Homo sapiens: one gene and its partner. The protein of the gene in region 1 purifies or fractionates together with the protein of each later gene. This does not show direct contact. Each region holds a gene or a part of one and is shown on either strand. Other genes may lie near its edges. The genes, in order: RASGEF1A and MYO9A.

Region 1 (4,366 bases):
AGTGCCCGCCAAGCCACTGCTGGCCATACCAGCTGACCTTCCCAAACCCTGCTCCCGGGCTGCTAGCTGGGGAATTCCTGGTGTCCCAGCGCGCAGGGACATTCTGCATGGGTTCCTGGCAGCTCGCCACTCTGGGCCGGCCCAGAGCCCACTCTCACATACCCACAGCCCCAGGCTCTGTGCCCAAAAAGTGGCGACAGGGATACACCCAAAAAGTGGGCAGTGAGCCCTCTCTGGACCCCCGCAGGTCAGGCTGACAGCCATAGGGGAGGGCCTCTGACACCCCCAGCAATCCACCAGTGGGTATCAGAGGCCCTCCTCTATGGCTGTCAGCCCACCAGTGCCACTTCAGTCCCCTCCCTCCGCACATCACACCCTTGCTAGGTAAACACTCATCCTCCCCAGCAGGGAGTGGGCAGGGGAGGGCAGAGGAGCCGGGAGGCAGGCTGGAGTGGGTGGGAGTTACAGGAGGCAGATTGGAAGCTCCAACAGAAAAGCAGCCAGAGTGCCGGACCCAAGCAGATGGCCTCAGGAGAAAAAGGGGGAAGGGGAGGGAGGGTCCGTCAAGGGGCAGCAGGGAGGGGTGGGGGAGAATGCCTTGAGTCTCCTCCCCATCTGCTATCTGCTATGCCCCTGGCACCTACCCCCAGCAGCCCAGCGCCCCTCCCCTGGGGTGGGCCATGCAGAGAAGAGCATCCCTCCACCAGCCCCTCTCCTGAGGACAGTGGGGGGGCCAAACCCCCTGCCCCCATCCCTGCCTTGGCACAGCACCTTCACTTGACCTATTTGACAAATAGGGCTTCTGTGAAACCCACGGTTCTATTGCCAAAAACCAAAGGCCAACCAAAGCTGTCCCATCCTGCCCCTGGCATCATTCTACAGGTGGGGACCGGCGTGCTCAGGGGCTCCTGGCCACACTGTGTCCCAGTGCCCACTCGCTCTCCTCCCTGGCTGGCCCCTCCCACCGCTGGGGGCCACTGTGTGCGTGGCTCTCCCCACCGCAGCCACTGTCCAGCACAAATGCCATTTCTCCCTCCTCCTCCTCCTCCCCTGCCTGCAGTTGCTAAGTTACACCAAAAAACCCCTCTGCTCTGTGTGAACTGTTCCATTTCCACGATTTGCCAGGTGGAAGGGAGCCATCCGGCTGGCAGCTCGAAGATGCCTCCCAGAGAAAAACAAACTCACTGGCTGGCCTTCAGGCCAAGGCACACCTGGGATACCTGCTTGGTTCACAAACCCAGGGGCATGTGCAGGAGGACACAGCTTCTCTACTTCACTAGAGAGCCTGGGGGATCCACACAGCTCATGCCCTTCTCAGGAGCAGGGAGTGTGGGCCTGCTGCACCCGCCTCGCTGGGTCACTACCACCCACAGCCCTAAGGACACACACTGGCTGGAGGGGCAGAGAACCCACCCACGTGTCCCTGGCCATCCAGCCAAGGTCCTCCATGTCCCCCTGCTCCGGATCTCCCCTTCCTGGGCTGGGGTCCTGAGGTTCCAAAGCAAAGTGTCACTGGACATCAGGGTGGAAATGTCCTCAGAGGTCATCAAAACCGTGTCAGTCTACAGATGGGGAAACTGAGTCTCAGAAGCCTGCAGCCTGCCCGTGGTTCACGAATCAAGACCTGTAGCCTTTCGGCTGGAGGCCCCCTAGAGCCGCTTAGAGTCCAGGGCACCGAGGTGGACAGGCTGGGCTGGCAAGACTGCATCCGGAGGGGGCGGGAGAACCCTGGGGGGACAGAGGGAACCAAGGCCTCTGGGAGGCTCCCCTGCACCCAGCCTGACTCCTGTGTTTCAGGATCCTGCGGCCGACGGCCATCGGGGCCCTTCCTGCGCAGGACAGTGGGAGAAGAGTGGCAGTGGTGGGGAGGGTGAACCAGGGAGAAGCTCACTGCTCTGAGCAGGGAGGGAGGGAGCCCCGGCCACCACCAGGTCTCTGCCCCCAGGTGGCTCCCAAGAGGCAGGCAGCGGCCTCTCTGTAAATATCCACCAGGTCCAGCACCCAGAGGCAGCCAGAAATGCAGGGCACAGGAACCTGCCAGCGCGTCCCTCCACACACAGCAGGGGACTCCCGCCCCCACCTCTCACTCACCGACCCTCGGACCAGAACCAGCTGCACCTGCCCCGTTCCTGGGGCCGGCAAGGCCTGGGGCAAAGAGAGCGTGGTCCTTCAAATGACCCTTGCCCAGCAGGGAGAGGGAGACACCTGGCATGGCCCTGGACCTCTCCCCCAAATGCAGAGCTCAAGCCCCAATTCCTCGCCAAACAGCAAGGGCGTGAGATACCACGGCGGGGCCCAGAATGCAGAAGAGCAAATGGAAACTTCCAACTGCGCAGCCCTGAGCTCCTCCGATTCCCCAGCCCCCACCCCCACGCCAGGCCCCGGGCAGCGAACCTGCCCGCAGTGCCCACGCCCGCCCGCCGCGTGCGCTCCTGCCACGCCCGGCCCGGCCCGGCCCGGCCCGCCAGGTGCCCTGAAGGGGCGGAGGGTGCAGGGGGTCCTGGCGCCGTCCAGCCCGGGGCGGAGTTCTCAGCAACTCCGCGCGCCGGGATCCCGGCCGCCCTCCCCGCGCGCGTCCCCCGCCCCGCGCCCGGAGCCCGCGCCCCGGCCCCACGACGGCCGCGCCGGGAGGGACCCCGGGCCCGCGCACGCCGCGCCCTGCCCGCGCCGGCGACCGGAGGGCACGGCCCCAGGCGCGGGCGGGGGCCCCGAGGCACTGAGGGTCCGCGGCCGCTGCCTACCTCGGTCCGGGCCAGCGTCGCTCCCGCGCCGCCCTCGCGCCGCAGTCGGGCCCCGAGCAGCGCGCGGCCGGCGCCGGCGGCGGCTCATGCTCGGCGCCCGGGCCCGCGGCACCCGCCCACCCGCGGCCGCCCCCGCGCTGCGCCAGCTGCGGGCAGAGCAGCTCCCTCCGCAGCCGGCGCCGGGGAGCGCGAGCGAGCGAGCGAACGAGCGAGCGCGGAGCGAGCGCCGAGCGGGCACGGAGCGGGCGCGAGAGCGCGGGGAGCGGGGGAGCGGGCGGGCGCGGGACGCGGAGGGAGGAGGGTGCGGGGCAAAGGTGCAGGGGGAGGTAGGGCGCGGGACGGGGCTCGAGCAGAGGGCACTGGGACAGGGCGGGCGCCGGGAGAGGGCGGCCAGGCTTTCATTTAAAAAGGATAAGGCATCACGCCTGTAATCCCAGCACTTTGGGAGGCCGAGACGGGCGGATCACGAGGTCAGGAGATCGAGACCATCCCGGCTAACACGGTGAAACCCCATCTCTACTAAAAATACAAAAAAAAAAATTAGCCGGGCGTGGTGGCGGGCGCCTGTAGTCCCAGCTACTCGGGAGGCTGAGGGAGGAGAATGGTGTAAACTCGGGAGGTGGAGCTTGCAGTGAGCCGAGATCGCGCCACTGCACTCCAGCCTGGGTAACAGAGTGAGACTCCGTCTCAAAAAAAAAAAAAAAAAAAAAAAAAAAAGGATCAGGCAGCAGACAAGCTAGGAGGCGATGCGGCCACCGCATTTAAAAGGCCCTCTGGGGACTCCCGCAGAGCTGGCAAAATTTTTGTCAGTGGAATCAGACGGTGAAAGCCCTTCTGTGGGCAAGTCCTGGCCCCTTGGGTCACTCCCCTTAACCATCTTAATCGCCCTGTAAGGTCGGTGGTGGATTTGTTCCCATTGGACAGGTTAGTAAACTGATGCACAGGGAGTGCGGTTACCCTGCAGGGTCTCAGAGCCTATAAGTGGCAGAGCAAGGCTCCAAAGCCACCTTGAAAGATTTCAGAACCACTAAAGCAGGACACAGGTCTTCTGGCGTCCACTGGAACTTCCTGTCGCTCTGAAGGGTCACCTTCTCTTGAACGGACACCCTGTGGCCTGACCCCAGGGTGGCCCAGAGTGACTCTTGCAGGCAGTCAGACGAGGGCCAGTGAGAAACAGGTCTGGGGCGACGATGTCCCCAGGTGGAGGGGTCTGTGTGAAAAAATGGGGAGGAGCCCCACAGCACCCCTTGAAGAGGCTGAGGACCTTGCTTACTCACTTAGTCCTTGTGTCTTGAACACCTGTATGCCAGGTGTAAGATGGGGCACTGGGATTCGGCTGTGAATGTCTCTGTCTGGTTGGAGTTTGCATTCTTGTGGGAAGTAGGCAGTGAATAAAAATACACATAAATAGTTCATGTGTCAGATGCTGCAGATCCCACAGAGAGGCCCAGCAGGGAGAGGGAGCCAGCGAAGGGAGGGGGAGGGGAGCTTGTAGGGTGGGGGATTCTTTTTTATTTTTTAAGGGGAGGTGTCACTGTGTGGCCCAGGCTGGAGTGCAGTGGCTATTCACAGGTGCAATCACTATGCTCTACAGCCTGGAACTTCCTGACTCTAGTGAGCCTCCT
Region 2 (3,487 bases), on another chromosome or scaffold:
ATTTTGGGTATTCTTCCTTTTCATACTTCTTTGAAGTTGTGGAAATATTAAGTCTTTTGTTAAGGCAGAGTCTCTCTCTCCTGTTACACAACACTGAACCTCACGCCACTGCCTCAGTGGTTATTGGCCAGCCCCAGAGGTTAGACTTGGAGCATAATTCTGAGTGGCAGCTAAAGGTAGCAGGAGTCTTACCTCTCCCTACTTTGGGTTCAGAATTGAGCCAGAGAAAGGAAGCCATTAAAATCTCCAGAATAATGATAGTTAATGAGCAAATGTTATGCTTTATATCCCACAGACATCTGCCACCTTGTTCATCTTGTCCTGAGGAGTAATAAATAATGTTAAGCTTTTAAAAATCTGAATTTCAGAGAATCTCCTAGAGGATAGAGGAAAACCCCTCAGCATGGTGTGTTAGAGTGGGATTGCTGGTTCCTCAGCCCCGTGCCAGGTTGCACAGTCTGTGTTTCAGTGTTCTTGGGAGAGTAGTGTACTGCTGGGCATTAATTGTTACTCTGCACTTGCTCCAGAATGTTGGTTAAATCCTGTATGAAAAAAAGAGATTGCCCTTATGGAATAATTTCCTGTGGCCCAGAGGAATGGCCAGAAGAACATATGTTGGCACATGTTCTTCCTTCTAAATCTTTGTGGGGCTTTTTTGGCAAAATAAGTTTTTTGGCAGTTAAAAAACGACTGATGTAGGTCACTTTAAAGGAACTAGGTGATGGATGTTAAGAGACTTTATAATTTTTCTCAGGGACCTGAAACTCCAGTTTGGATAAAATTCAATTAAAAAAACTTGTTTTTTCAGTTGCTAGATTTGTGGATTTCTAGTAATTTAATCTGCCAGGATTGGGGTGGGTGGGTGAGGAGGAGAGAGCCACAAAATGATAAGAGTGGAGAGCAGTGTGGGGCCCTCCCTTTGAGGGAAAGCCGTTGTTTACATAGGGTAGTAGGCCTTGTTGGCCTGATCAAGAGATGAAGCCATAACTCTTAAAAACCTTCAGAACCAAACGCTGTGTCTGCATCCATCTGTTCTCACTGGCCCTCTGCATGGTAAAGTTATGTCACCACAAAGTGATGCCGCATTACAATCACTTATGAAACTGTTAGCCCTTAATATGCATCACATTTGTGGTTCCATAGTGCTTCTCCTTTGCTTGTTTGATCTCTGCATGGCAGCAGTGGGGCAGCTCCACATTTGGAGCCCATACTCCAAAATGCAGAGCACTCTTCTCACAGCACACATTCCCAGCCCCAAACAAAACCTGAATTTTCAACTCTGCCCATTAAAGTGAATGTATCCCTGTAATTTAGTATGTACTTATTATGGAAAATGTAACAAAAGCAGAGAAGTGTGATTTCATTCTGTATCACAAATTGAAGCAAATCAACAGCAAATACAGCAGGATTCAGGGAGGCTTAGTTTACAACGTACTTTGTACCTCCTGCCATTTAAATTATTTTGCCACTCTGGGCTTCTGAAAACACAAAGGGAGATACAGCCCTCCAACTATGAGCCTTGCAGAGAGAGACAAAAGGGCCAGAGGTCCTGGGATGGAATACTAGAGCCCCCACCTTCTCATGCTTTGGAAACCTGCCAGAGCACTTACCCTGCTGGAAGATTAATGAAGACTCCATTCTGTGTTTCATAACAGTAGCGTTGTTTTCTCCATCAAAAACAGAGGGTCACAGAAATGTGCTGAAAAGATGTGGTCCAGCAAGGTTCTGTAGTCCCACCTCAGTGCCTGTGGGCTGTGTTTTTCACTGTAACAAGCACTTTGGTAAACTAGAAAGAAGAAAGGATTCTCAGGATGTGTTCAAAGCTAAGAGAGTTTTCATTTTAAAAAGAAACATACATACTCACTCCATGGCTTTCCTCATCCTCCTCTCTTTTTTCTTCTTGGTGGGAAGCTGGATGCGGGGCATGCATCATTCTGTATGGACAAATGTGTTATGTCCACCCATACTCTTGTGACAACTCCCCAGCACTGTCCTGCAATACCATGCTGGCCTTGGTAGTAAAACTCCTTGGTATCTGTGAGAGTCCTCTTTTTCTATGCCCTAGACTACTTTTAACCACTTTTCTCTGGAATGACTCCCACATTTGATTGGGTATTGAAAGGGTAACAGCAAAATGATGATTGTGGAGATGGATCTATTAGGTCTCATGTTGGTCCCCTGGTTGAAACTATTTTCAAAAAAGCCCCAACAATGGGCCTGTCACCTTGCTAGTCATCCATTCTTAATGCCTATTTATCAGCCCTCTGAGGTCATATAAAAGTTGCACCTTTTGAACCAAGTATTTGTATTTACTATGGGAAAGGTGTGGACTACAGATTCGTATTATATTATTTTAATGGATTTTAAGTAATTTATAAGTATGCTGAGTGTAAATTTTTTTTAAAAACTGTATTATAAAAGGACATATCCTGTGAAATATAACATTTTACTGTTTAATAGAATAATTCTATAAGAAGAATGATTTATCTCACCCACGGAACTGATTACATTCCGGATGCAATCAATAGGCACTTTGTAATTTCCTTTTTGTTTTTTTTTCTTTGCTGGGGGGTTGAGGGGTAACAAGATACCATCTGTATAAAGTGCAGTTTGTGTCACTCAAAATATGCACTGTATGGCTACACAAAAGCAGCTTGATGAACAAATCACCCCATGGCTCATTAAAGAACAAAGCTTCCAGAAGCAGCAATATGTGTGGTTTGTTTTCCAACCATCCTGGCTCCCACTCCAACTATTCCAACCCAACTCCAAGAAACAGCAGTGACTTCTTAGTTACACTGATGTGTTTTCAGGAAAGGACTCAACCCAAAGTTGACAAAGCACAGAGGTGGTAGTCACTGGAACTCAACTGAATTCAAGTGAAGGTGTGATTCAAGGTGTCGTTTTTTCTGTAGTGGATGCAGGCTGCTGGCTGTCAAGACTTCATTTAATCGGTTTAAGGCTAGAAGGGAGGAAAAGCAGTAAATCTGCATTTAGGATCCTCCCCTAAATTGGCCACTTGAAGAAGTTGCTAATAGAGGTTGCCAATAGAGGGCCCAAGGATTCTCACTGAAATTCAAAGCAACACATTGCAATAGGAACAGAAATTTTAACTCAGTTTGTCATTTTTGTTCTGCTACCAACTTTACTGCATGTCTGGGAAAGGCATTCGCTCTCTCTGAATGTTAGTTTTCTTATCTGGAAGTCAGTTCTGTTTCCCAAACTCCCAGCTTTGGAGAACTCCTACTGACTCGCAGGTTTTAGTATAAAAGGTAGTTGTCCTAGGAAGTTTGCTCTGACCCTGTGAATTGGGTTAGAGGTCTGTGTTCTCAACAGCTCTCAGTTTTCACAGCGTCAAACACTTACCTGTCTTGCTGACTCTTAGATCCCAGCACCTAATAAAAGGTGCTGGCTAGGCAGATATTGGATGAGAGGATTGACTAGGATCAGTGGTTCCAAAATGCCAAATCAGGTCTGAGGTTACATG

What was found.
Region 2: the proteins of RASGEF1A (region 1) and MYO9A purify together in Homo sapiens (affinity purification with mass spectrometry; one large-scale study listed by BioGRID and IntAct). This does not show direct contact.

The regions. Positions count from the first base shown.
Region 1 is NC_000010.11:43,264,104-43,268,469, forward strand, and holds the start of RASGEF1A (ras-GEF domain-containing family member 1A), read right to left. Parts: upstream 2,963-4,366; 5' UTR 2,742-2,962; intron 1-2,741. UniProt on the Homo sapiens protein: Guanine nucleotide exchange factor (GEF) with specificity for RAP2A, KRAS, HRAS, and NRAS (in vitro). Plays a role in cell migration.
Region 2 is NC_000015.10:71,821,510-71,824,996, reverse strand, and holds the end of MYO9A (unconventional myosin-IXa), read left to right. Parts: 3' UTR 1-2,706; downstream 2,707-3,487. UniProt on the Homo sapiens protein: Myosins are actin-based motor molecules with ATPase activity. Unconventional myosins serve in intracellular movements. Regulates Rho by stimulating it's GTPase activity in neurons.